Homo sapiens: one gene and its partners. The protein of the gene in region 6 interacts with the protein of the main gene of each other region in a biochemical or structural test. Each region holds a gene or a part of one and is shown on either strand. Other genes may lie near its edges. The genes, in order: TPT1, TCEANC, PRKD3, RAB11A, TCP11, IKBKG and RNF34.

Region 1 (2,606 bases), on a different chromosome or scaffold from region 6:
CACCACTGCACTCTATCCTGGGTGACAGAGTGAGGTGCTGTCTCAAAAAAATACAGTAGAGTTTAAATGCTGAAGGAGATCAGAGAACACCATTGATCTTCCTCTAGATATGGCCTCACTTTCACTTCATAATCATATTTTGCTGTATACGTATGGATCAGTATCAGTGGTTTTCACTTTGGTTTACTGATAATGGGCAGCTGATCATTGAAAAGCCTAGTGCAGTACTAGCTTAGTAAATAGAGCTGACTGCTGAACTGGTATGCAAATTGTTTTACTAATAATAAATAACTTGGTGTCTTCTATGGAAGGAACTGCTGGAAGCTGTACAGAAACAAAGGCATTCATTATCCTAGTTTTCATAGGCTTCTGTATAAGGAAGAAGAAAAACATAAAGCTATACTGAACAAGATTAGAGTCAACAGTAGACAGAAATTACTTAGAACAGTATAAGATGACTTACCAAAGGGGTTATTCAGACAGTATCTGAGGTTTTTGTTGGTAGAGCAGGGTGTGGGTGGTACATGCCACAGCCTTCTGAAAAATGAGCTACCGCTGATTTGGTAAGGGTGTTCTGCATCCACTGATAGACCTTGAACAATTTACTGTTGTTCTTTTGGTTTGCACTAGGATGCAAAAGAAAGAAATCCCTGCGCTTTCTGTCTGTCTTTGTGGCGGCCCAGATTGAATTGGGGAATACATCTTTAGCCTGGAAATGTAGGCTGCATGTTAATGGTAATGTAACTTTTGCAGTGTAATGTTTGAAAAATATTAATGTAGTTTTTGCTTTTACAGTAACAAATGTGGCAATTATTTTGGATCTATCACCTGTCATCATAACTGGCTTCTGCTTGTCATCCACACAACACCAGGACTTAAGACAAATGGGACTGATGTCATCTTGAGCTCTTCATTTATTTTGACTGTGATTTATTTGGAGTGGAGGCATTGTTTTTAAGAAAAACATGTCATGTAGGTTGTCTAAAAATAAAATGCATTTAAACTCATTTGAGAGAATGCCTTTTAGTTTAATGCATATTTAAACTAAATTGATCCTGTAGTGTTCCTGGAGAAGCTAGAGCCTGATTGTAGGCTACTACTCATCAATTAACTTCTACAGTGGAGACTACTTCTGGGACTGGAATATAAAAAAGAATCAAAGGTTCTGATTTTGAGTTGCAATAAAGGGAAAGACCATGCTCATAGCAGTGCCAACATCTGAAGTGTGGAGCCTTACCCATTTCATCACCTACAACGGAAGTAGTTAACTGGAAGAGATTACCAAGAGAATAAAAAGAGACTCATTCAGTGGAAGCAACTTTGTCTCAGCTTATTTCACATAAAGAGAGCGAAGTCTTTTGGGATGAATGTTAATTAAACTCCCTGGTAACTAGAACAGGGACTGGCAAACTAGCCTATCTGACCACCTGTTTTGTACACTTTAAGGTGGTTGGTTGCCTTTTTAAATGGTTGAGGGGAAAAGAATACCTTGTGGGATATGGAATTTAAGTTCGAGTCCAGTTTTATTGGAACGTGGCTATGCTTATTCATTTATGGATTGACTGTGGCTGTTGTCAGTGCATGAGCAGAGTTGTGTCTAACAGACTAGAGCCTGCAAGTTTGCCAGCCCCTGATTTAAAAGATGAAGGTACACAGAATGTGGGCTGGCTGGTGGGCAAAGGGGTAAAAATGTTCTCTATATTGTATCTGAAAAGATGGGGTGTCTGAATAAGAAAATGCATCTATTTGACAGACCTGGAGCAGTTGCTATCTGCTGCTATGGTTTCCACCACAGATGCAAGAAGAACATGTCCTTGCGCTTTCCGTCTGTCTAATTGTGGCAGCTGAGATTGAATAGAGGAATACAGGAGGAAAAAAAGCGGGAAGAGTTTTTGAGGCAGGTCGGTCACCCAGGCTTGTAGTGCAGTGGCACAAGCAACTCACTGCATTCTCTGCATCCTGTGCTCAAGCCATTTTCCCACCTCAGTCTCACTAGTTGCTGGGACTGCAGGCATGCACCCCTATGCCCAGCTAATTTTTGTAGAGACCGAGTATCGCTTAGTTGCCCAGGGTGGTCTCAACTCCTGGGCTCAAGGAGATCTGCCCACCTCAGCCTCCCAAAGTGCAGGCCTAGCCTGGGAGGGGAATTTTCAAAACGTGAGTTTTGGGAAATAGTCTATCAGCCTTACCTGGTTGATTACACTTGTAAAAGAAAGATTAAAAGCAGGCCAGTGACTCTGGTCTGCTTGAACATGTGAATGTAGTGGTTTGAGCAATCTGGAGTTTGCCCTAGTGTCAAATTCCAGACTGTCCATAGTGTCCAAAACCTGAGGCAGATACTAATGTTAACCCCCAGCACCCCGTGATTGGAAACAAACCTAAATACGTATTGGGAACTTAATAGCAATTTTAAGCATTCTGATAGATTTTTTGTAGGGATGGGGTCATGCCATGTGGCCCAGGCTGGTCTGAAAACTCTGGCCTCAAGTGATCTCAAGCTTTGGCCTTCTAAAGTGTTGGGATTACAGGTGTGAGGCATTGCACCTGGCTTAGCGTTCTGATTTGACATTGTAATGAAAAGTGTGAGTCTCATCTACAGGGCCTTT
Region 2 (3,500 bases), about 140 Mb from region 6:
TTTTTTGACAGAGTCTCGCTCTGTCGCCAGGTTGGAGTGCAGTGGCATGATCTCGGCTCACCGCAAACTCTGCCTCCCGGGTTCAAGCAATTCTCCTGCCTCGGCCTTCCGAGTAGCTGGGACTACAGGTATGCGCCACTACATCCAGCTAACTTTTTGTATTTTTGGTGGAGACAAGGTTTCACCATGTTGGCCAGGATAGACTCGATCTCTTGACCTCATGATCCACCCACCTTGGCCTCCCAAAGTGCTGGGATTGCAGGTGTGAGCCACCACGCCCAGCCTGTCTTAAGCCTTTTTAAGTATACAGTTCAGTAGTGTTATGTACATTCTCGTTCCAGAGGGGAGGTGGGTAGAAGGTGATTGATTCATTGCTCATACCATTTTTCAGTAGGTATATCTTAAGTGCATATAGTTTATCATGAAATTGCGTTAGACCAATAACTTTTCTGATTATGAAAGCAATACATGCTCATCACAGAAAATACAGAAGAGGAAAATAACAAATGAAAATTACCTAAAATCTTACCATTCAGAAAATGCCCCTCTTTAAAATTTTGTGTATCTCTTTTCAGTCTTTTCACATGTAATTCTTAAATAAAATTTGGATCAAATTCTATTTTTAAATAACACCTTTATTCAGATGTAATTCACGCACCATACAGTTCACCTAAAGTGTACAATTCAGTGTTTTTTAGTATACTCAGTTGTATAACCCATCACCACAAATAAATCTTGAGAAGATTTATGTGTGCCACCACCTCCCAAGAAAATCCCTGAACTTTATCAGCTGCTCCTCCTCCTTCACCCCACTGCCCTTCTGCCCTACCCTACCTAGTCAACAACTGATCTATTTTCTGTCTCTATAGATTTGCCTGTTTTGGACATTTCATGTAAATAAAATCATACAATATGTGGACTTTTCTGTCTGGCTGCTTCTGCTCAGCATAATGTTTTCAAGGTTCATCCATGTTGTAACTGTATCAATACTTCATTCCTTTTCATGGCAGAATAATATTCTGTTGTGTGGATAAATCACATTTTATTTATCCATTCATCAGTTGATGGACATTTCGATTATTTCCCATTTTTGGCTATTGTGAATAATACTGCTATGAACATTTGTATACAAGTTTTTGTGTGGACATATGTTTTCATTTCTCTTGGATCTGCTGGGTCATATGATAACTGGTTTATTCATTTATTTATTATTATTTTTTTTTAGACAGAGTCTTGCTGTGTTGCCCAGGCTGGAGTGCAGTGGCACGATCTTGGCTCACTGCAAACTCCGCCTTCCAGGTTCATGCCATTCTCCTGCTTCAGCCTCCCAAGTAGCTAGGACTACAGGTGCCCGCCACCACACCCGGCTAATTTTTTGTATTTTTAGTAGAGATGGGGTTTCACCATGTTAGCCAGGATGGTCTCGATCTCCTGACCTCGTGATCTGCCTGCCTCGGCCTCCCAAAGTGCTGGGATTACAGGGTGAGTCACCATGCCCGGCCCATATGTTAACTGTTTAGTCTTTTATATAGTTTTACATCTTGATTGTTTTTCACCTAACTTTATGACCATTTTTCCATGTCGTTAAATATTATCTAAATACATGATTTTTAAATGGTTATATTACTGTATCCTAGGAGTGTGCCATATTTTTAACCATTCTCCATTTAACCATTTGAGGGCCTTCTAATTTCTCCTTAGAAGAAAATTCTTACATATGCAGTCTCCACATCTCTCATTTCCTTAAAGTAAATTTATGGAAGTAGAATTACTAAAAGGTCATTATGTTTTATGTCACTTGTCATATGGTGTCTGGGAAGACTGCGTGAATTCTCTCTCTAAACACTTCAGTGTTCTTAGCCTGTGTATGTTCGGTGGTGATTATTTAATATCAAGTGCTATAAAACAGAGCCCATGGATTTTTGAAAAGACACAGTCCCTGCCATCAAGATGCTTATGTTCACATTTAGACCAGACAGATAAATATAGATCCAAGGGTATTATATAGACAAGATTATGTACATTATGTGGAGGGAAAAAATAGACTGCATAGATAAAAGTAAACATTTGCCTGCCTAGGATGAAATTCACACAGACATAATCATTGAGCAACTCTTTACACTTAAAAATTTTTTAAAAATTAACAAAACCAAAATGTAAGAACCAGTTAGTCTAAAGTCATAAATCATCTGGATCATTGAGTCTGAACCTTTCCCTTGTTCAGAAGACTCCTAAGGCAGCACAGTGTAGCCTGTTGGCTTTTGGGACCCGCAGACGTATCTCTAGCTGCTTTTCAACCTGTGCTGTCTCACATTTTCCTTAGATTGCTTGAGACATTAGCAAACCCTTTCTGTCTTGTTTCTCTTTTATTTTCAGAAGAGTACCACTTTAAAGATTATGAAATGAGCAAGTAGTTCAGTTATATAGCTGACTCTGGGGAAAAATTGTCTAGCACTGTTCAGCATTGCCATATTGATGCTGACACCGGCATGATTTCACCTCCAACATGACCACCGGATTCCGCCCAAATGGATTGACTAATCTAGAAAGATCATTGATTTGTAAAATTGGAGGTGGAAAAGCTATAGCAGATCCTCCGGCAAGCCTCTTAAGCAGATGTTATGTAGAGGCTCTGCAATGCTGTTTGTTTGTTTTTCACTCGTAGGAATTAAACTCTTGAGAGTAAACCATACCGTCACCTTAAAGATTCCATTTTCTAGCGTGTCGCATACATTTGTATTACATGACTCTTTCGGAAAACATTGCCTAGGTAACTGACAGAAAGTGCTATTTTAGTATCCAGAAGCTGCGACTAGCAACGGCAAACTTAAGAAAACTGAAACCTCTTTTTTCTTTGCAGCTGTAAAGATGTCTGACAAGAACCAGATAGCTGCCAGAGCTTCTCTTATTGAGCAACTGATGTCCAAAAGGAATTTTGAGGATCTTGGCAACCACCTTACTGAGCTAGAAACAATTTATGTGACTAAGGAGCATCTCCAGGAGACAGATGTGGTCAGAGCTGTGTACAGAGTCCTCAAAAACTGCCCCTCTGTGGCTTTGAAAAAGAAAGCCAAGTGTTTGCTATCAAAGTGGAAAGCTGTTTATAAGCAGACTCACTCCAAAGCGAGGAACAGCCCTAAATTATTTCCTGTGAGGGGTAATAAAGAAGAAAATTCAGGACCTTCTCATGACCCAAGTCAGAATGAGACACTGGGCATCTGCAGCTCGAATTCTCTGTCTTCCCAAGACGTTGCAAAACTCAGTGAAATGATTGTGCCTGAAAATAGAGCCATTCAATTGAAACCTAAGGAAGAGCATTTTGGGGATGGTGACCCTGAATCCACTGGCAAGAGATCGAGTGAGTTGCTGGATCCCACAACACCCATGAGAACTAAATGCATAGAGCTTCTTTACGCAGCTTTAACTAGTTCTTCCACAGATCAACCCAAAGCTGATTTGTGGCAAAACTTTGCAAGAGAAATTGAAGAGCATGTTTTTAC
Region 3 (3,500 bases), on a different chromosome or scaffold from region 6:
GACTAAGGACAACAGATAGGTGTTTTCACTTGGTAAATATAACTCAAATTGTCTTTTCAAATAAAAAGATATATTAAAAATCGTTCAGCTTTTAAAGTAGTAATCATATTCTTTTTATGTTTATGTGGTTAAAAGTGATTCCCTATCATTTTGAGGTCGAAAGGGTTGCCTGATAGTTGGTGCAATGTTTTAAATAAACTGCTTCCATATATTATCTCATTTGATCTTCAAAATAGTAGACAAAAGATGCACACTCCTACTGGTAACATTAAAACTCCCACTTTCTGACCTCTATTTTAGTGATCCACAGTGTTCCAATGAGAAGCAAAGGGAAAATAATGTGATTTACTTGATACGCTTTTTATGCTCAAGTGTTAGCCATGGCTCCACTTCTTTAATCAGTTGCCAAACTTCCAAGTCATCTTTACCTTATCAAGATGTTAGCTGAAATCTGGCATTTAACAACAAAAAAAGAGTTTGTATTTCTTCAGGCTCAGTATTCGTACTCTTCAAAGACACTGAAATCGAGAAGCAGCCAGATTCAGTAATGATTTTGAGCAAATATCATTCATAAAAATATGTGTCAGAGTCCACCATCCCAGAAATAGCAGCATTTGATAACTTCACTTCGTTTTCTAGGCACTGTTTGTACCACTGTTTTCTACAGCTTAAATCTTTTTCCTCTCAATTTATATTAATGCTTTTGCTAAAGACATTTTTTAAGTCAGAGCATTTCCTCCAGAAAGTACCTGGCATTTGCTTGTTCAGCATGGATGTGGTCATTAATCCCCCAGATTTGAGCCTCTAGAAAAATCTGGGCAGCAAGATAAGTGTTCTGAGTTCTGCCAAGCTCATCAACTTCTAGAACTCTCTTTTGAGAGGATGTGGTAGTGACTATGGCTCCCTTTACATATAACTGTTTTCAAATCTAAACATCTAACTAGAAATAATTTGTTCCACAGTGATAGAAAAGTGTTGCTGTTACTCACTGGGGCAGTCTCCAGCATTATTCCACTGGTGTCCCCATTTAAAATTACCTTTAATACACCTCAGTTTTATTTACTTGCCAGTTTATAACATCCTTAGGAAAAGAGATTCTAGGATTAAGCAAAACAAGGGATGTTTTTAAATACTGTAACTTTTTTTTTTTTTTTTTTTTTTTCTTTTGAGACAGAGTCTTCACTCTGTCGCCCAGGCTGGATTGCAGCGGCGTAATCTCGACTCACTGCAAGCTCTGCCTCCTGGGTTCACGCCATTCTCCTGCTTCAGCCTCCCAAGTAGCTGGGACTACAGGCACCCGCCACCACGCCAGGCTAATTTTTTTGTATCTTCAGTAGAGACGGGGTTTCACCGCATTAGCCAGGATGGTCTCAATCTCCTGACCTCGTGATCCGCCCGCCTCGGCCTCCCAAAGTGCTGGGATTACAGGTGTGAGCCACCACACCTGGCTAATACTGTAACTTATTTTTCCTTCAGCAAACATTGAGTACCTTTATGTGTCCAGGCACTGTGAGGCCACTAAGGATTCAGAAATGAAACAATTCCTGCTCACAGATGATGGAAGAGTGATCTTACAAGACAAATGATAGAAAGCAGCATACTCTATTTCATAAGAAATCAGAACACTTATAACACCAGTCTGGTATTTGGTATTCTGGAAGCTAGAACTTTTGAAATATGTACTAGGAAAGCTCTTCATACTGTGTCAGTCAGGATCACAGGGCTATAAATGTGTCTGCCTTTTGAGAAAAGGATATTTTACAATTTCCTTATCTGTGATTAATATTCATAATCAGTAGAGCTGGCAAGTATGTTGAAATGATACATACAGTGTTATATTTAGGGACAGGTAGTTACATATATAACACTATAATACAAAATTAACATCATCCTTCAATTTCCAGGTGAAGCTGTGTGACTTTGGATTTGCACGCATCATTGGTGAAAAGTCATTCAGGAGATCTGTGGTAGGAACTCCAGCATACTTAGCCCCTGAAGTTCTCCGGAGCAAAGGTTACAACCGTTCCCTAGATATGTGGTCAGTGGGAGTTATCATCTATGTGAGCCTCAGTGGCACATTTCCTTTTAATGAGGATGAAGATATAAATGACCAAATCCAAAATGCTGCATTTATGTACCCACCAAATCCATGGAGAGAAATTTCTGGTGAAGGTAAAAAAAAAAAAAAAAAAAAAAAAAAAAAAATTTTGGCTATGTGTTTTAAGCCTAAACATCTTTCTCATCCCAAATCAGTCTGTCTCTTGCAACTTATCTTTTTAGTACATCTCCCATTCATCTTCCAAATTCAACTAGTTACCAGTTTTTTGAGCACTCTTCTTTTTATACTTTTATCTGTGTCTTCTGTATAGTTCCCAGGCATAGCACTTACATAGGCCCCAGTGGCCTCATTGTCAAACCACTAAAATATCTTTTTAACTGTCTTACCTGTTAAACTCTTTTCTGGTCCTTCCTAGTCACTACTGCCAAATCTATCTTCAGGAAACATTACTTTCATTTATGGTGCTCCCAAACACTTCTCTTTAACCACCTTACAGGCATAGTTATCTGTGATATGGTCCATGCTTACCTTCTAGCCTCATCTCCCACTACTCCCTACACAAACCTAGTTGTTTACTCTTCTGAACTGTTTTCTGCAATTTGCTTGGGACTGTTTTTCCCTTGTCTACAATCCTTCCTATTAAAATTCGAGGACCCCTTAATTTGTGGCTCATCTATAAAGTTCCCTGACTACTCCTCTACACTGCAGAATTTACTTAGGCTAAAAAACATTTGGGCTTTTTTATTATCTTTTTTTATTTTTATTGAGACGGGGTCTCCCTCTGTCACCCAGGCTGAAGTGTGCACAAACACAGCTCACTGCAGCCTCGACTTCCTGGGCTCAAGTGATCCTCCCACCTCAGCCTCCTGACTAGGTGGGATGATGGGTATGCACCATGGGCCACCCACACCTGGCTAATTTTTAAATTTTTTGTAGAGATGGGGTCCCACTATGTTGCCCAGGCTGGTGTCAAACTCTTGCACTCAATTGATCTTCCCAACTTGACCTCCCAAAGTGCTGGGATTACAGGCATGAGCCACTGCACCCAGCCCCATTTTTTTCTTAAGTATTCATTCTTTTCATAATTGACTTTTCTAATCTTCAGAACAAGACTGTGAGCTCCGTGAATGAATACCTAGCTCCGGTTCCTTATACCTAGAATGAACTTTATAATCACCAGACACACTGCAGTTTGTTTTCCTCTCTCCTGTGGACCTCTGCTGGGAAGCTGCATACATCTCTTTTTCCTGCCTAGTGAAGGCTTTTGAATTTGCAACTCCTGGTTCTGTACCCGTCAAGAATAAGTTGGCTGGCCCTCTTTAGTCTGCTGATACTGATAGGAAGGACAAGTACACTACTTAAAACATTATTTAACTGCCCCATAGAAGTTAATAGAACCAGTGCTGGGGAATACCCCCATCTGGATTTAACCAGCCCATGT
Region 4 (3,500 bases), on a different chromosome or scaffold from region 6:
ATGACGCGATCTCGGCTCATTGCAACCTCTGCTTCCTGGGTTCAAGCGATTTTCCTGCCTCAGTCTCCCGAGTAGCTGGGATTACAGGCATGGACCACCACACCCGGCTAATTTTGTATTTCTAGTAGAGACGGGGTTTCTCCATGTTGGTCAGGCTGGTCTCGAACTCCTGACCTCAGGTGATCCGCCCGCCTGGGCCTCCCAAAGTGCTGGGATTACTGGTGTGAGCCACCGTGCCTGGCCAGATTTCTACTTTTTTAAAGCTCTTACAGGATATGAGTCACTTTTTCTTTTTCTTTTTTAACTTCAATGCTGATTATTTAGCCAATTTCTTATTTATACAAGTATCCTACTTTAAAGTGAAGCAAGAATGATTTTATTTCAAAATGGCTTTATTGTACAGAGATTTATTCACTGAGATGGACTGCAGCTGTTTCTACTTAGAAGGTTTACCTAGCAAATGCAATAGTTGAGGGAATTGGAGTTAGTTTGTAACTAACCAGTTCAAAATAAAGGGATATTTTGATTAATAGGGGATGGAGTGGTCTAAATAGGAATGTAATGTGGGGCGAGCAGGACAATTATTCTAAATTATGTGTTTGTTCTTGAACAGTAACCTTTATTTAAGCCCAATAGTGAGACTTTTGGTGGGAGGGAATTAGTTTTATTTTATTTAAAGTTGACTTTTTATTTTTAAAACTTTAATTCCTTAAGTATTTACGAACAATGTGGTTAAGGCCCTGTGGGACATAAGTAAGCATCAATCATGATTTCTGTTTACAAATATTGTGTGGTAGACACCAATCCACAGTTAGATTTTCTGAAAATATCTGGATACATAGTCTATTGCTTAAGACATTTTCTTTTCAATCACATTGGAGGTCAGTAGTAATTAACCATCAGCTGATTGTCAGTAGAAATTATCATAGGAACTTTGCTGTCTTGCATCTTGGTAGTAGTTTTTCTTTCACAAGTTTTGGTTGAGCAACTCAGATTCTGCTGAATCTGGAAAAACTTGTCTAGACTTGAGCCTTATTGTATGCATTATATCTATATCTATATCTATATATATATATTTTTTGAGGCAGGGTCTCCCTCTGTTGCCCAGTCTGGAGTGCCATGGCACAGTCATAGCCCACTGCAGCCTCAAATTCCTGTGCTCAAGAAATCCTCCTGCCTCAGCCTCCCAAGTAGCTGCAACTACAAATGTGCTCCACCATGCCTGGCTATTTTTTTTTTTTTAAGACTATCCCACTTACAGAAATAAAATTTTCTTTTTTGTAGAGATAGGGTCTCCCTACGTTGCCCAGGCTGGTCTCAAACTCCTGGGCTCAAGGGATCCTCCCACCTTGGCCTCTCAGAGTGCTGAGATTACAGGCATGAGCCACTGTGTCCTGCCTTGAACGCATTGTATATTAAAAACTTTTGAGGAGGTTGGACTATGAATATAGTTGAAAGAATAGAAATGTCTCCAAATTTATGAAAACTAGAATGAAAATTACCAGTTATTCTCTCACGTGGTAACTTTTAGGGTTGAGGTACTGTCTTTGATGAATTATATTTTAGTCCAGTAAATTAGTTTGCAAGAGAAAGTATAAAACTAAATGTGGTTGAAGAGGCAGAAATTTTCAATGGATAATTAATATGTATATTCTGCTTTTATGCATTTAGCAGCTTGATATTCAGTATTAGGTATTTGCGATGATACTCAAATACAGCAGATGTCTAGTTGATAACTTTTTTTTTTTTTTTTGAGATGGAGTTTCACTCTTGTTGCCCAGGCTGGAGTGCAATGGCGCGATTTCAGCTTACTGCGATTTCAGCTTACTGCAACCTCCGCCTCCCGCTTCAAGCAATTCTCCTGCTTCGGCCTCCTGAGTAGCTGGGACTACGGGCATGCGCCACCACACCTGGCTAATTTTGTGTTTTTAGTAGAGATGAGGTTTCTCCATGTTGGTCAGGCTGGTCTCAAACTCCCGACCTCAGGTGATCCACCCTCCTTGGCCTTCCAAAGTGCTGGGATTACAGGTGTGAGCCACCACGCCCGGCCTAGTTGAGATAACTTTTTAAAACATTCATGAATTTTGAGTTATTTTCAGATTAGAGTGCTTTTTTTTTGTAGTGTTAACATTAATTGGTTACATTAAGAGAAAAGTTCCCTTGCTATCTTTATGATGGTATAAGGAGTTGAGATTGGTGAGATAATGAACATAATCATTAGTTAAAAGTGGAGGTCAAAAGGGAGGAAACCAAAACTTGAAAGTGCTGGAGTTGGCCGGGCATGGTGGCTCATACCTGTAATCCCAGTACTTTGGGAGGCCAAAGCGAGTGGATCTTTTGAGCCCTGGAGTTTGAGACCCAGCCTGGGCAACATGGCAAAACCCCATCTCTACAGAAAATACAAAAAATTAGCTGAGCGTGTTGGCATGTGCCTGTAGTTCCAGCTACTAGGGAGGCTGAGGTGGGAGGATCCTCTGAGCCTGGGAGGTCTAGGCTGCAGTGGGCTCTGCTTGTGCCGTGGCACTCCAGCCTGGGCGACAGTGAGACCCTGTCTCAAAAAAAGAAAGAAAGAAAGAAAGTGCTGGAAGTTTTTTTTTTGAGACAAGTTCTGGCTCTACTCCCCCGGCTAGAGTACAGTGGTGCACAGTCCAGGCTCACCACAACCTCTGCCTCCCAGGCTCAAGCCATTTGCCCACCTCAGCCTCCTGAGTAGTTGGGACTACAGGCATGCACCACCGTGCCTGTCTAATTTTTTTGTTTGTATTTATTCATGTATTTTTTGTGTATTTTTTTGTATTTAAATTTTTTTTTTTGTATAAGTGATTCAAAGGCCATTTCCTTAGCAAACATCCAGCCTTTTGTACTAAGAGGCAACAGTGAATGTATCCTATTAATAATAGACTATTAACTGAAACTGAGATTTGACTTCATATCCAGAATGGTGGACCTTGGAAACTAGTATATCAACTAACCATCCTATAAAATTGAAAGTGCATTGCTTTTGTACATCACTTTAATAACTTTGACATTTTCTTCTGATATCAAATAAAAGCATGTATGTGTTTGCCACAGCATCTTTGACACCCTCTAGTTGACTCTCTAGTTAGAAATAACCATTCTTTGTGCTGCATTGGATTCACTGCCTCCTGAATGATTTCTTGCTGAATCAGCTGACTGAGAAAGCCAGAAAGATATGCATTTGATAATGTACTCTGTCCAAGACTGTCCAGAGGCTAGCTTATATCCACTCCTGTGGCAAGGAGGGAATGTATAATGGACTCTCTTTGCCCTCTGACCAGAATGCAGTGAGCTCTCAGTTTTTACCATTCTTTCCACTCGTACCACCATCCCAGTCTCTTTAGTAAGGAATGGTCTTACTCCTTGGCCTTATTTTTGTATGTTTGATTTTCTAGTCCTGATGTCTAAATCAATTAGCTAGTTTAGATAAGAAGAAGTCTTAGTAGTCAAAAGTAGGAACGAATGTAATGTTTCCTGAAATG
Region 5 (3,500 bases), on a different chromosome or scaffold from region 6:
GGGTGCTGTACAGAATGTCTTGCAAGCACCAATAAGGGAACCACACATGGACCTTTAGGAATTGGGAGCAAATCTATTCCTTCTTTAATGATAATTATTCACCTTTTGAGAAACAACTTCTTGGGCCTTGGTAGAAAGTAAACACCTTACTATAGAACACTGGGTAACCATGTGGCCTAAGCTTCCCATCAGGAATTAGGTATTGTCTAACTTACGTAGCTACAAGACTGGACATGCACAGCAGCAATCTATTATCAAATGAAAATGGCTTATAAGAGACCAAGCATATACTGGTAATAAGAACAGATACACAGACCAAAAGAATAGAGAGCTGATAAATAAAACCTGGATATATAAGGTCAAATGATTTTCAACAACAATGCCAAGAACCAATGGGGAAAGGACAGTCTTTTCAACAAATGGTGCTGGGAAAACAGGATATTCACATGCAAAAGAACAAAGTTGGACCTTTACCTTACCCCCATATAAAAATATTAATTCAGTTGTGCACATGTACCCTAAAACTTAAAGTATAATAAAAAATATATATATATATTAATTCAAAATGGTAGTGGCTCACGTCTGTAATCCCAGCACTTTGGGAGGTCGAGGCAGGCGGATCACCTGAGGTCAGGAGTTTGAGACCAGCCTGAGCAAAATGGTGAAACCCCATCTCTACTAAAAATACAAAAAATTAGCCGGGCGTGATAGTGCACACTTGTAATCCAGCTACTACTTGGGAGGCTGAGGTGGGAGAATAGCTTGAACCAGGGAGGCAGAGATTGCAGTGGCCAAGATCGCACCACTGCACTACAGCCTGGGTGACAGAGCAAGACTCTGTCTCAAAAAAAAAAAAAAAAGAAAGAAAAAAGAAAAAAAGGACCTAAACATAAGAGCTAAAACTACAAAACTCTTTGGAGAAAACATAGGTGTAAATATTCATGATCTAGGATTTGGCAGGATTTGACACCAAAAGCATAAAATTCAATAAAAGACAATCCAATTTAAAAATGGACAAAGTACCTGAGTAAACATTTCTTTGAAGAAGATGTACAAATAGCCAACAAACACACGAACAGATGCTCAATATCACTAGCCATTAAGAGAAATGCAAGTCAATGAGATACCACTTCACACCCATTAGAATGGCCATTACCAAAAATGGAAAACAGCAAATGCTGGCTAGGATGTGGAGAAATTGGAACCCTGGTACATTGCTGGTAGGAATATAAAATGGTGTGGCTACAACAGAAAACAGTTTGGCAGTTCCTCAAAAAGTTAAACATAGAATTACCATAGGATCCAACAATTCCAACTTTAGGTATATACCCAGAAAAATTAAAAGCAGGGACTCAAATATATACTTGTACACAAGGTTTACAGCAGCATTATTTACAATAGCCAAAAGGCATAAAGAACCTAAACGTCCATCAACAGATGTATGAACAAAATGTATTCTATCCATATAATAAGAATATTATTCAGCCATAAAAAGGAATTACATTCTGATATATGCTACAATATGGATGGACCTTTAAAACATTACACTAAGTTAAACAAGTCCAAAACTAAAAGGACAAATATTGTATTCCATTTATAAGTACCTAGAGTAGTCAAATTCATAGAGACAGAAAGTACAGGTGCTAGTGGGAGAGGGGAAAGGGAAATTATTGTTTAATGAGTACAAAATTTCTGTTAGGGAAGATTCAAAGGTTCTGGAAATGGATAGTGGTGATGGTTATATTGTAAATATACTTAATGCCAGTGAACTGTAACACTAAAAAATAGTAAATTTTGTTATGAATATTTTGCCACAACAAAAACAAATCCTAAAAAAAATTAAATAAATTTTTTAAAGCCCCCAATATGGCCCATTCCCCAGGGAGGATCAGTCAGCCATCTTATGGCAGATGATTTCACTGGACCTCTAACAGTTTAGAGAGGGCGAGATTCATCCTTACTGGGATAGACACATATTCTGGATATGGAGTTGTCTTCCCTGTTTGCCATGCTTCTGTCAGTACCAGCATCCAGATAATCACAGAATGCCTTATCAGCTGTCCTGGGTCTTTGCCTACTCCATTGCATTGCATCTGCTCAAGGAACTCATTTCACAGCAAAGGAAATGCAGTGAATTCATACCTACTAAATTAACTGGTCTGACCAAAAAGCTTTCACTGAGAATCAGCTGGCCCTAACTAAAAAGTAGAATGGCTTATTTTAGACTCAATTACAGCATTAGGTGAGCAACAATACCTGAAAGGAAGGGAATTGGTCTTACAGGATGCAATATATGCTTTGAATCAAAGACTTTTTTTTTTTTTTTTTTTTTTTTTTGAGACAGGGTTTTGCTCTGTTGCCCAGGTTGGGGCACAGTGACACAATCATGGCTCACTGCAACCTGTGCCTCTCAGGCTCCAGCAATCCTTCCGTGTCAGTCTCCTGAGTAGCTGGGAATAGAGGCATGTACCACCACACCCAGTTAATTTTTCTATTTTTTGTAGAGATGGGTTTCACCACATTACCCAAGCTGGCCTCAAATTCCTAGACTCAAGCATTCTGCCCACCTGAGCCTCCCAGAGTGTTGAGATTACAGGTGTGAGCCACTGTGCCTGGCTTCAAAGACCATTCTATGGTGCTGTCCCCTAATGCCAGAATACATGGGTCCAGGAATCAAGCAGTAGAAGTAGGACTGCTTCCTCTTACTAGCACACCTGATAACCCACTTGCAGGATTTTTGTTTCCCATCCTGCCAACTTTGAGGTCTGCTGATTTGTGTGAAATACTTGCATTGGTTCCAATGAAACAGAAGATGAAACTGACCATTGGGGGCTCCTTATACCACTGAACCAAAAGGGTAAAAAAAGGAGTTACTGTACTGGATGCCGTACTTGCTCCTGAGTACCAATGAGAAATTGGATTGTGGCCACACAATGGGGGTAAGAAAGACCATGCCTGAAACTCAGGAGATTCTCTGAGTTGCCTCTTAGTACTTCCAAGCTCAATATTAAAGGTTAATGGAAAACCACAACAAACAAAGCAAAATGTCTCAGACTCTTTGGCAATGAAGGTTTGGGTCACTGCACCAGATAAAGAACCCCAACTAGCTGAAGTTCTGGCCAAGGACAAGGGAAATATGGAATGAATGAATCGTGGAAGAAGGAAGCCATAGATAACAACTATAGCCTTGTGACCAGTTATGGAAACAAGGACTATAAATTTTATCTTTGCTTATTATATGTATGTTTATTTATATATGCCAACATTTTGTTCTTCCTCTTTCTTTCCATTGTTATTTTATATACAAGTTGTTAGAAGTTAAATTTTATGATTTAGCCTTTAGGTAACACAATAGTCAGTGAAACTGGCTGAATTTGAGGAGCGGCCAGTGATGGATACAATAACTATTTGGGCCATGTCTCCTCATTTTGGGGGAGGATAAATAATAAATAGCTATCTGTCTTGTAAGAGTTCTTTTCAGGAATTCAAATGTGTATAGA
Region 6 (3,500 bases):
GTGGGAGCTGCCGGTGCTTACCAAGGTTGGGATGCTTCCGTCCCGTGGAGACTGGGAGACTGGGCCCCGCGCCTCCTGAGGTTTCCGTTTCCAAGGAGTGGCTGCGGGGCCCTCGGGAAAGCCCCTGGGTTGTGGGTGCTACACAGATGTCTCAAAGGGACAGGGTAAGCCCTTTGTAGTAAATGCTGTCAGAAAGGGAGGTCAGGTGTTGGCCGGAACAGACAGTACATGCTCTGGGCAGCCCTGAGCGTTTCCAGACGGGAACTCACTCAAAAGGGGGCTGGGGCGTCCCAGGGGCGCGGCCTTAGGCTCCCAGAGGCCCCGCGAGGTGGTGGCCGGGTGTCTTCGGGCAGGGGTTTGAGTGCAGTGTGCCTGCCGAGAGGTTCTGCAGTTCCCAGTGTTTAACAAAATTCAGTGTCCACTCTTGATCTGCACAAACTCTCCCATCCTGGCGGCCCCGGGTGTGGACTGGGGCCTGTGTTTACTTTGCCCTATTCGTGTCTGGCCTCCTTTTGTCCCAAGTCTCAGAGAGACGGAGAGAGATCCCCTGCTGGGGCTGTAGCTGCAAGGCCACCGGGTTCAGCCCTCGAGGCCTGCTTGCCGGGGCAGTGACTAAGCCGTTGACAACCTCAAGGCAGCTTTGTGCTCCTTCGTCTCTTTGGGGATCTCTTTTTGCCCCATCTGTGTGTCACCCTGTGGCAGAGGGTTAAGGTGGGCAGCTGGGGAGGGTTGGGTGGCCCTTGGGCTCATGAGGCCCTAGGGCACCCAGGTTTGGGGGTGCCGAGGGCAGGAAAAAAGGCCTCATGGCGCGCAGGCCTCAGCCGCTTGCGGGTTGCCCCGGGCTTGCGGATGGCAGGAGTGGGCCGCTGGGGAGAAAGCAGTGCTGACAGGAAGTGGCTTTTTATCCTGCAGCAGATGGCTGAGGACAAGGCCTCTGTGAAAGCCCAGGTGACGTCCTTGCTCGGGGAGCTGCAGGAGAGCCAGAGTCGCTTGGAGGCTGCCACTAAGGAATGCCAGGCTCTGGAGGGTCGGTGAGTCGGGGGAGCCGGCTCCGGAGACCCCTTCCAGGGTTTCCAAAAGCAATGAGGTGGGTTTAGGGGCCTCCAGGGTGCTCCTTGATGAGGATAGACCGGGGCAGGCTGCGTAAAGACGTCGGGGCAGACGTCGGGAGAGGTCTGGGCCAGGCATCCGGGACCTGGGTCCCAGCCGGCTCTCCGCACTCTGTGACCCTTTGATGGAGTTTGGATTATTTCCTTAGGAGGCATTCTGGGGGCCCCGAGCCCACACCCACAGTGTCTAGTTCTCTGGAAGGACTTCTGGGACCGGCGCACAGTCGCCCTCGTGGCTGAGGTTGATGACAGGGAAAAAGGCACAGGGCAGGAGCCGCCAGGGCAGGAGCCGTGGGGGGAGTTGGAGAAGCCCTGTCCCAGCCTCCCGCTGCCCTGCGAGCGGCACAGTGAGAAGCGCCTCCCACACGGGCCGTGTTCCTGCCCAGGGATGCCCGCTAGAGACTCAGCGCCCTGGGTGTTTACTGGGGGCAGGTCCTGTCAGCGCCCTCTGCCAGGCAGGTACCTAAATCCCCGACTCCCAGCAGCAGAGCGGGTGCTCACGTCAACCACGTTCTTCCTACAAATGGCCTAGGTGCAGGGACCGACCTGACCACTAGAGAAAGTGTCACTGTGGCAAGGGAACTTCACCAGCCAAGGGCCAACCTTGCCAGCCGGTGGCCTCAGGCCTGCTGGTTACTCTCTTTTGCAAAGGGGTCTTGGTTCTTGTGAGTGGGACCATTGGGTCAAAGGGCAGGGAGGTTTCTGTGGTTCTCATTCGGTCCTGCTTCTGCCCTCCAGACAGATGGATCAGCTGCCAGGGGGGCCCCAGCCATCCCAGCACAGTAGGCGGTCAAGGTGCACTTGGGGCAGCCAGCAGGGCAGAGGGGAGGGGAGCTTGACCCAGGCTCTGATGGGCAGAGGGAACCCGTGCAGGGTGTGGGGGCAGTATGCAGGCAGGCGCGGAGGGGAGAGCCAAGCAGCCAGGCCTGCCAGGCAGAGTTGGGGTGACTGGAGAAGGGCCGTGTCTGCCTGTGGCCAGAGGCCACCCAGGACCTGGACAGATGCACCCACCATTGTCCCTGCAGTGAGGCTGTGGAAGGGCTTGGTGTGGTGGGATGAGGCCAGACCCTGGAAACTGGAGGTTAAGGGAGCTGTAGGGGGGCAGGTGTGGGAACTGAGCATCCGAGCAGGTCGTCTGGGACTCCAGCAGAGCTCTGGGCAGCAGCAGGGATGGGGCCGAGGCCCGGTCTGCATTGAGCTCAGTGCTTGCACGCCCAGGTGGGCAGTCTCTCATTTTTGGAACAGCAGTCTCTCCTGACCCCCTCCACTGAGACTGCTTTTGCTGGGGCCCCCAGCAGTCCCCCAGTGGAACTCCACGGGCAGTTCCGAGGGCTCCTCTCACCTGGCCCCAGCACTGCGGGATGCAGGCGACCCCATCCTTTTCTCGGACCACCCCCTTCCCCTGGCTTCCAGGTCTCCTTGCCATCTGTACTTGGTCACCTGCTGGGCCCCTGCATTGAAGCAAACACGTCTTAAGCAAAGCTCCTCACCTGCTGCTCCCACCTGGCCCCCTGCAGTTGTCCTCGTGTCTGTTGACGGTGCCTCCACCCTGCCGCCTGGCATCAGCTCGCAGTCACAGGGTGTTCAGAGCCGACCCCCACCCCCCGCCCACGCCCTGCGCATAGCCCCTGCCGTCCCCCCGTTCGTCCTCCCTGAGTCTGCTCTTTCCCCGTGCCAGGGCCCGGGCGGCCAGCGAGCAGGCGCGGCAGCTGGAGAGTGAGCGCGAGGCGCTGCAGCAGCAGCACAGCGTGCAGGTGGACCAGCTGCGCATGCAGGGCCAGAGCGTGGAGGCCGCGCTCCGCATGGAGCGCCAGGCCGCCTCGGAGGAGAAGTGAGTCAGCGGGGGCGGGGCCGCACCGCAGGGTCTGTGGTTCTACACTTGATCTTAGCCGAAAGGCTGAGAAGTGTCGGGTCCATGGTTCTTTCTGCCTTCTGAGGACTCCTTCAGATTCTGCCTGTGGCTGTGGGCCCATTCTGTCCCTTAGCCTTGCTAACGGTAGAGGCGACCATGATGACACCCGGTTTGTCTTTGATACAGTCATGCCATCTGCTCTCCAGACCACGTTTCACTGCGTGTCCACACGTGGCCTTTTTTGTAGTTTTTTTTTCCTAGCCACTAGGTCATCAGGGGACTTGTCCTTTAAAACCCCTTCTAGGCCAGGTGCTGTGGCTCACGCCTGTAATCCCAACACTTTGGGAGGCCAAAGTGGGTAGATGGCTTAAGCCCGGGAGTTCCAAGACCAGCCTGGGCAACAGAAAGACAACAAAAATACCCCCAAACCCCCCCGTCTACCAGCATCCAATCTGGGACCTCAGGTTCCTGTCCTTGGCGTGCCTTTTCAGTCTCCTTTAATCTAGAACAGTTCCCCTGCCTTTCTGAGCTGTTTGTGA
Region 7 (3,500 bases), on a different chromosome or scaffold from region 6:
TTCCCAATTATGTTTAAATGCAGAAACAGCAACAATGTGGAAACTTACATTCATCAAATGTTAGCATTTAAAATATACATGACTAATAAAGTGAACATTCAGAGGAGCCACTGCTCAGCATGTTCCATGTCGGCCACTTGTGGACACTGATCTCATCCAAAGAGGACAGAAGTTTCAAACATCTGAGCAGTTTAAGTTAAAAATAGGATGAAGGGGAAATAAGAGAACAGGATAAGTGTCCTCCCAAGACAGCAGTGGCTGATGCCCACATGGCGCAAACAGGCTGACTTCAATGAGTGTTCACGGGATGTGTGATAAAGCCCAGCTGAGCCCGGGAAGCTCACGTGTCCACAGGCAGACAGGCTCACGGCATGGACCAATGTTTCCACAACTCAGGATGGATCTTTCTGTCCCCACTTAGTAGTCAAAATAATGTTTTAAAATAGCTTCAGCCTTTGAACATAACTTTCCAGTCCCTTCTGTGCATTGAAATGTTGGGGGTCAAGTTTGGGGGTGACTGTCCTGGTGAGGGGAGCCTGTTTCAGGACTTGAACACGTGCACGGCTCGCACCACATACTGCCGGCAGATGGGACACTCACTCATGCGCTTGCCGCACTTGGTGCAGGTAACCATGTGCCCACACTCCAGTAGGACACAGTCGATGACGGCATCCATGCAGATGCGACACAGGCTGTCGTCTTCCTCATCCTGCAGCTGCAGCCGCTCGCCATCTGAAAGGCAACAGAGAGCTAAGGCCTCGGCTTCAGGCATGGCCAGTCAGCCAGCCACCCTCCCAGTCCGAAGCTGAGCAGCCACCTGCTGAATGACCCCTGCAGGCCCAATGCCACCCCAGTGTTGTACAAGAAATAATCCCAACTTCTCTGCACTTTGGTTCTCTCCACTAGAAATGGCAATGATAAAAGCTATACCTCAGGGTTTTGTAAAGAATAAAATGCTTGACGTACCCAACAAATGTTAGCTATGTATTTCTATTTTATATCTTTGTCTAATTCAAGACATCTGTGATAGGGATATATTACTTCTGTAACTAGAAAAAGAAACCCTCAGCTGGTCTTCTGTAGATGGGCTTTGGAGTCAGGATGCTATTGGAATTTAACTCAGTTGCCCCAGCTTTGTAGCCCTGGGAACACCACAGTCTCTGGAGCCTCATCTCAGTAGGAAAAGGAGCCTTAGTTCCCCCTTAGGAAAGTTAGGAATAATTGTGCATCCTTCCCTCCCTAGCCTTAGAATCATCTCAAGCCATCTGTGTTCCTGGCCCTGCTGAAGTCTAACTTGAAAGAGATGGGCCGTCCTGGCTCTTGGCCCACCTTTACATCTGAGAAAATCCAGTCTGTGAATAAGAAAGACGATGAATAAGTTAAAAAAAAGTTAACCCCAGCCTGAGATTTGGCCATAGGGCTATGGATTTGGGTGCTTCCCTTTCTACAGGTCAGAGGAGATCAAAGGGAATCATGAATAGTTGGAACAGAACAGGAATTCAAGCTTGAAAGGTCAGTAGTCTCTAGATTTAAGAGAAATGTTTTACTGCCATTCATGGGGAGAGATTCTTGTGATCTGGGGTCTTAGTTCATGGCCCACGACTACTGGTGTGGACCTGGGGAGAAAGGATCTATGGGATGAGATGGCAGATATGCCAATGGAGAAGGCACTAGGCAACTCAAGATGAAATCAGAGTGGGCCTTGGTCTCTCCTTCTGTGTGGAGGGTTCCTTCCCACTCTTTAGAACTTAGGAAAGCAGAGGAGCCAGTATCTTGTCAGGGATATGGGAACAATCTTGGTAGTGACTTGGAGCCAGTCAAGCTAGGAAAGATGCCAGCTGTGCTCAAAACAAAATGTGTGTTCCACCCAAGCCAGAGATTGAACTAGGGTTAGATTATGCAGTGAGTTAATGGAGAAAGACACTGGAAACCATGCTGTCATAATAACAACCATGTTATATCCTACGCCGCAAAGTACTTAAGGGTGGGAATGGCATTATCGTTGTGCACTGTACATAGTTGCTATTTACATTTATGAAGTCAACTGACTTCTCCCCTCACTGCCAGAAAACCATTTCCCAGCCAGCAGCCTACGACCTCTGAAAGCTCTGAGGATGAAGATTCCTGCATCTACCACTGTGACATCATCTTTGAAGTAGGATTGCCAAAATATTTTGTGCATATTCTGGGCATAAACCTGTTCATCAACAAATGCTGTATTATAACCAGCTTTTAAAGGACAAAACTCAAGATGATAAAAGTTAATGATGGGAGGGCTGTTTAAGCTAGATAGGAACATAAGATTTGTTAGTCTGAACACCACTGAGGGTCAGGCATGGTGGCCCACGCCTAATTCAGCACTAGTCTGGGCAACATAGTGAGACCCTGTCTCAATTTAAAAATATTAAGTACATATATATTTTTTTTACAATTAAAAAGAAAAAAATAAATACAACTGAATTATTTTTTCTTGTCCATAAATGTTCCGTGGCTTGATCGTGTTACCAGCTGAGGAAGAATTTCTGTGCCAAATTTCATCAATGTATAGTTGAGAAGTTTTTGTTCTGTTTTGTTTTGTTTTGAGACAGTCTTGCTCTGTCACCTAGGCTGGAGTGCAGTGGCATGACCACGGCTCCCTGCAGGCTCAAGCAATCCTCCCCCCTCAGCCTCCCAAGTAGCTGGGACCACAGGCTGGTGCCACCACACCAGGTTTTTTTGGTTTTTTTTTTTTTTTTTTTTTTTTTTTAGAGATGGGATCTCTCTATGTTGCCCAGGCTGGTCTCAAACTCCTGGGCTCAAGTGATCCTCCTGCCTCAGCCTCCCAAAGTCCTAGAATTACAGTTGTGAGCCACCAAGCCCAGCCTAGTTCAGAAGTTCTTAACCTCAGCTTTTTGTGACTTACACAGAAATCTACAGATAGTTGATGCTAAGAACTATGTAACATCTGGGCTATAGGGAATTTTCCCCCTACTGTTAGATTTAAAAGTTGAGAGAACCAAGGTACTGGCCGGCCAAAGGCATTAGTGAGAAAATAAGCATTTTTACAGAGACGAGGAATTTAATTAGGGTTGTAACAAATAGTTAATTATAGTAAGAAAAACCAAATTGAATAATTTTCTAACTCACTTGGCAGTGGTGGTCTCGCAGCCATAATGAACATCACATAATGAAGTTACTCCTTTCCAGATCTATAAACAGGCTCATGTAACTAACTGATACTCAGTAAAATGGTACACAGCTTTCTCAAAAATAAATTTGACTTAATTGTGACAAAAACAACCCAGTTTTTAAAAGCCTAAGGAAAAATACTACAGGGAAAAAATGAAAAGATAAACCTACAGGACTTTTGGTTTTCTTCATTCTCTTTGTATAACCGGTTTACTTTCTCTACCAGTTCCCATTTTTCACAACAGCCAGAATAGTTGACAAAATTCCGAGCCAGAATTTCCTTCAGCTGGCGCACGCTCATTCCTTCCACATCATCAAGGCTTGACAAGTCA

The links.
Region 1: the proteins of IKBKG (region 6) and TPT1 form a complex in vitro, tested with the Homo sapiens proteins (one study listed by BioGRID and IntAct).
Region 2: the proteins of IKBKG (region 6) and TCEANC form a complex in vitro, tested with the Homo sapiens proteins (one study listed by BioGRID and IntAct).
Region 3: the proteins of IKBKG (region 6) and PRKD3 form a complex in vitro, tested with the Homo sapiens proteins (one study listed by BioGRID and IntAct).
Region 4: the proteins of IKBKG (region 6) and RAB11A are reported together in a solved structure, tested with the Homo sapiens proteins (2 studies listed by BioGRID, with this or other methods).
Region 5: the proteins of IKBKG (region 6) and TCP11 form a complex in vitro, tested with the Homo sapiens proteins (one study listed by BioGRID and IntAct).
Region 7: the proteins of IKBKG (region 6) and RNF34 form a complex in vitro, tested with the Homo sapiens proteins (one study listed by BioGRID).

Annotation. Positions count from the first base shown.
Region 1 is NC_000013.11:45,335,578-45,338,183, reverse strand, and holds part of TPT1 (translationally-controlled tumor protein), read left to right. Parts: intron 1-574; exon of another isoform or gene 575-630; coding exon of another isoform or gene 631-708; exon of another isoform or gene 709-795; coding exon 796-798; 3' UTR 799-2,606. UniProt on the Homo sapiens protein: Involved in calcium binding and microtubule stabilization. Acts as a negative regulator of TSC22D1-mediated apoptosis, via interaction with and destabilization of TSC22D1 protein.
Region 2 is NC_000023.11:13,659,641-13,663,140, forward strand, and holds part of TCEANC (transcription elongation factor A N-terminal and central domain-containing protein), read left to right. Parts: intron 1-11; 5' UTR 12-46; coding exon of another isoform or gene 47-128; intron 129-1,390; 5' UTR 1,391-1,482; intron 1,483-2,860; coding exon of another isoform or gene 2,861-2,868; coding exon 2,869-3,500.
Region 3 is NC_000002.12:37,255,334-37,258,833, reverse strand, and holds part of PRKD3 (serine/threonine-protein kinase D3), read left to right. Parts: exon of another isoform or gene 1-518; intron 519-1,904; coding exon 1,905-2,172; intron 2,173-2,368; exon of another isoform or gene 2,369-3,500. UniProt on the Homo sapiens protein: Converts transient diacylglycerol (DAG) signals into prolonged physiological effects, downstream of PKC. Involved in resistance to oxidative stress.
Region 4 is NC_000015.10:65,872,491-65,875,990, forward strand, and holds part of RAB11A (ras-related protein Rab-11A), read left to right. Parts: intron 1-3,500. UniProt on the Homo sapiens protein: The small GTPases Rab are key regulators of intracellular membrane trafficking, from the formation of transport vesicles to their fusion with membranes.
Region 5 is NC_000006.12:35,124,340-35,127,839, forward strand, and holds part of TCP11 (T-complex protein 11 homolog), read right to left. Parts: intron 1-3,500. UniProt on the Homo sapiens protein: Plays a role in the process of sperm capacitation and acrosome reactions. Probable receptor for the putative fertilization-promoting peptide (FPP) at the sperm membrane that may modulate the activity of the adenylyl cyclase cAMP pathway.
Region 6 is NC_000023.11:154,557,620-154,561,119, forward strand, and holds part of IKBKG (NF-kappa-B essential modulator), read left to right. Parts: intron 1-912; coding exon 913-1,031; intron 1,032-2,787; coding exon 2,788-2,940; intron 2,941-3,500. UniProt on the Homo sapiens protein: Regulatory subunit of the IKK core complex which phosphorylates inhibitors of NF-kappa-B thus leading to the dissociation of the inhibitor/NF-kappa-B complex and ultimately the degradation of the inhibitor.
Region 7 is NC_000012.12:121,420,618-121,424,117, reverse strand, and holds part of RNF34 (E3 ubiquitin-protein ligase RNF34), read right to left. Parts: coding exon 3,340-3,500; exon of another isoform or gene 3,127-3,339; intron 733-3,126; coding exon 542-732; 3' UTR 1-541. UniProt on the Homo sapiens protein: E3 ubiquitin-protein ligase that regulates several biological processes through the ubiquitin-mediated proteasomal degradation of various target proteins.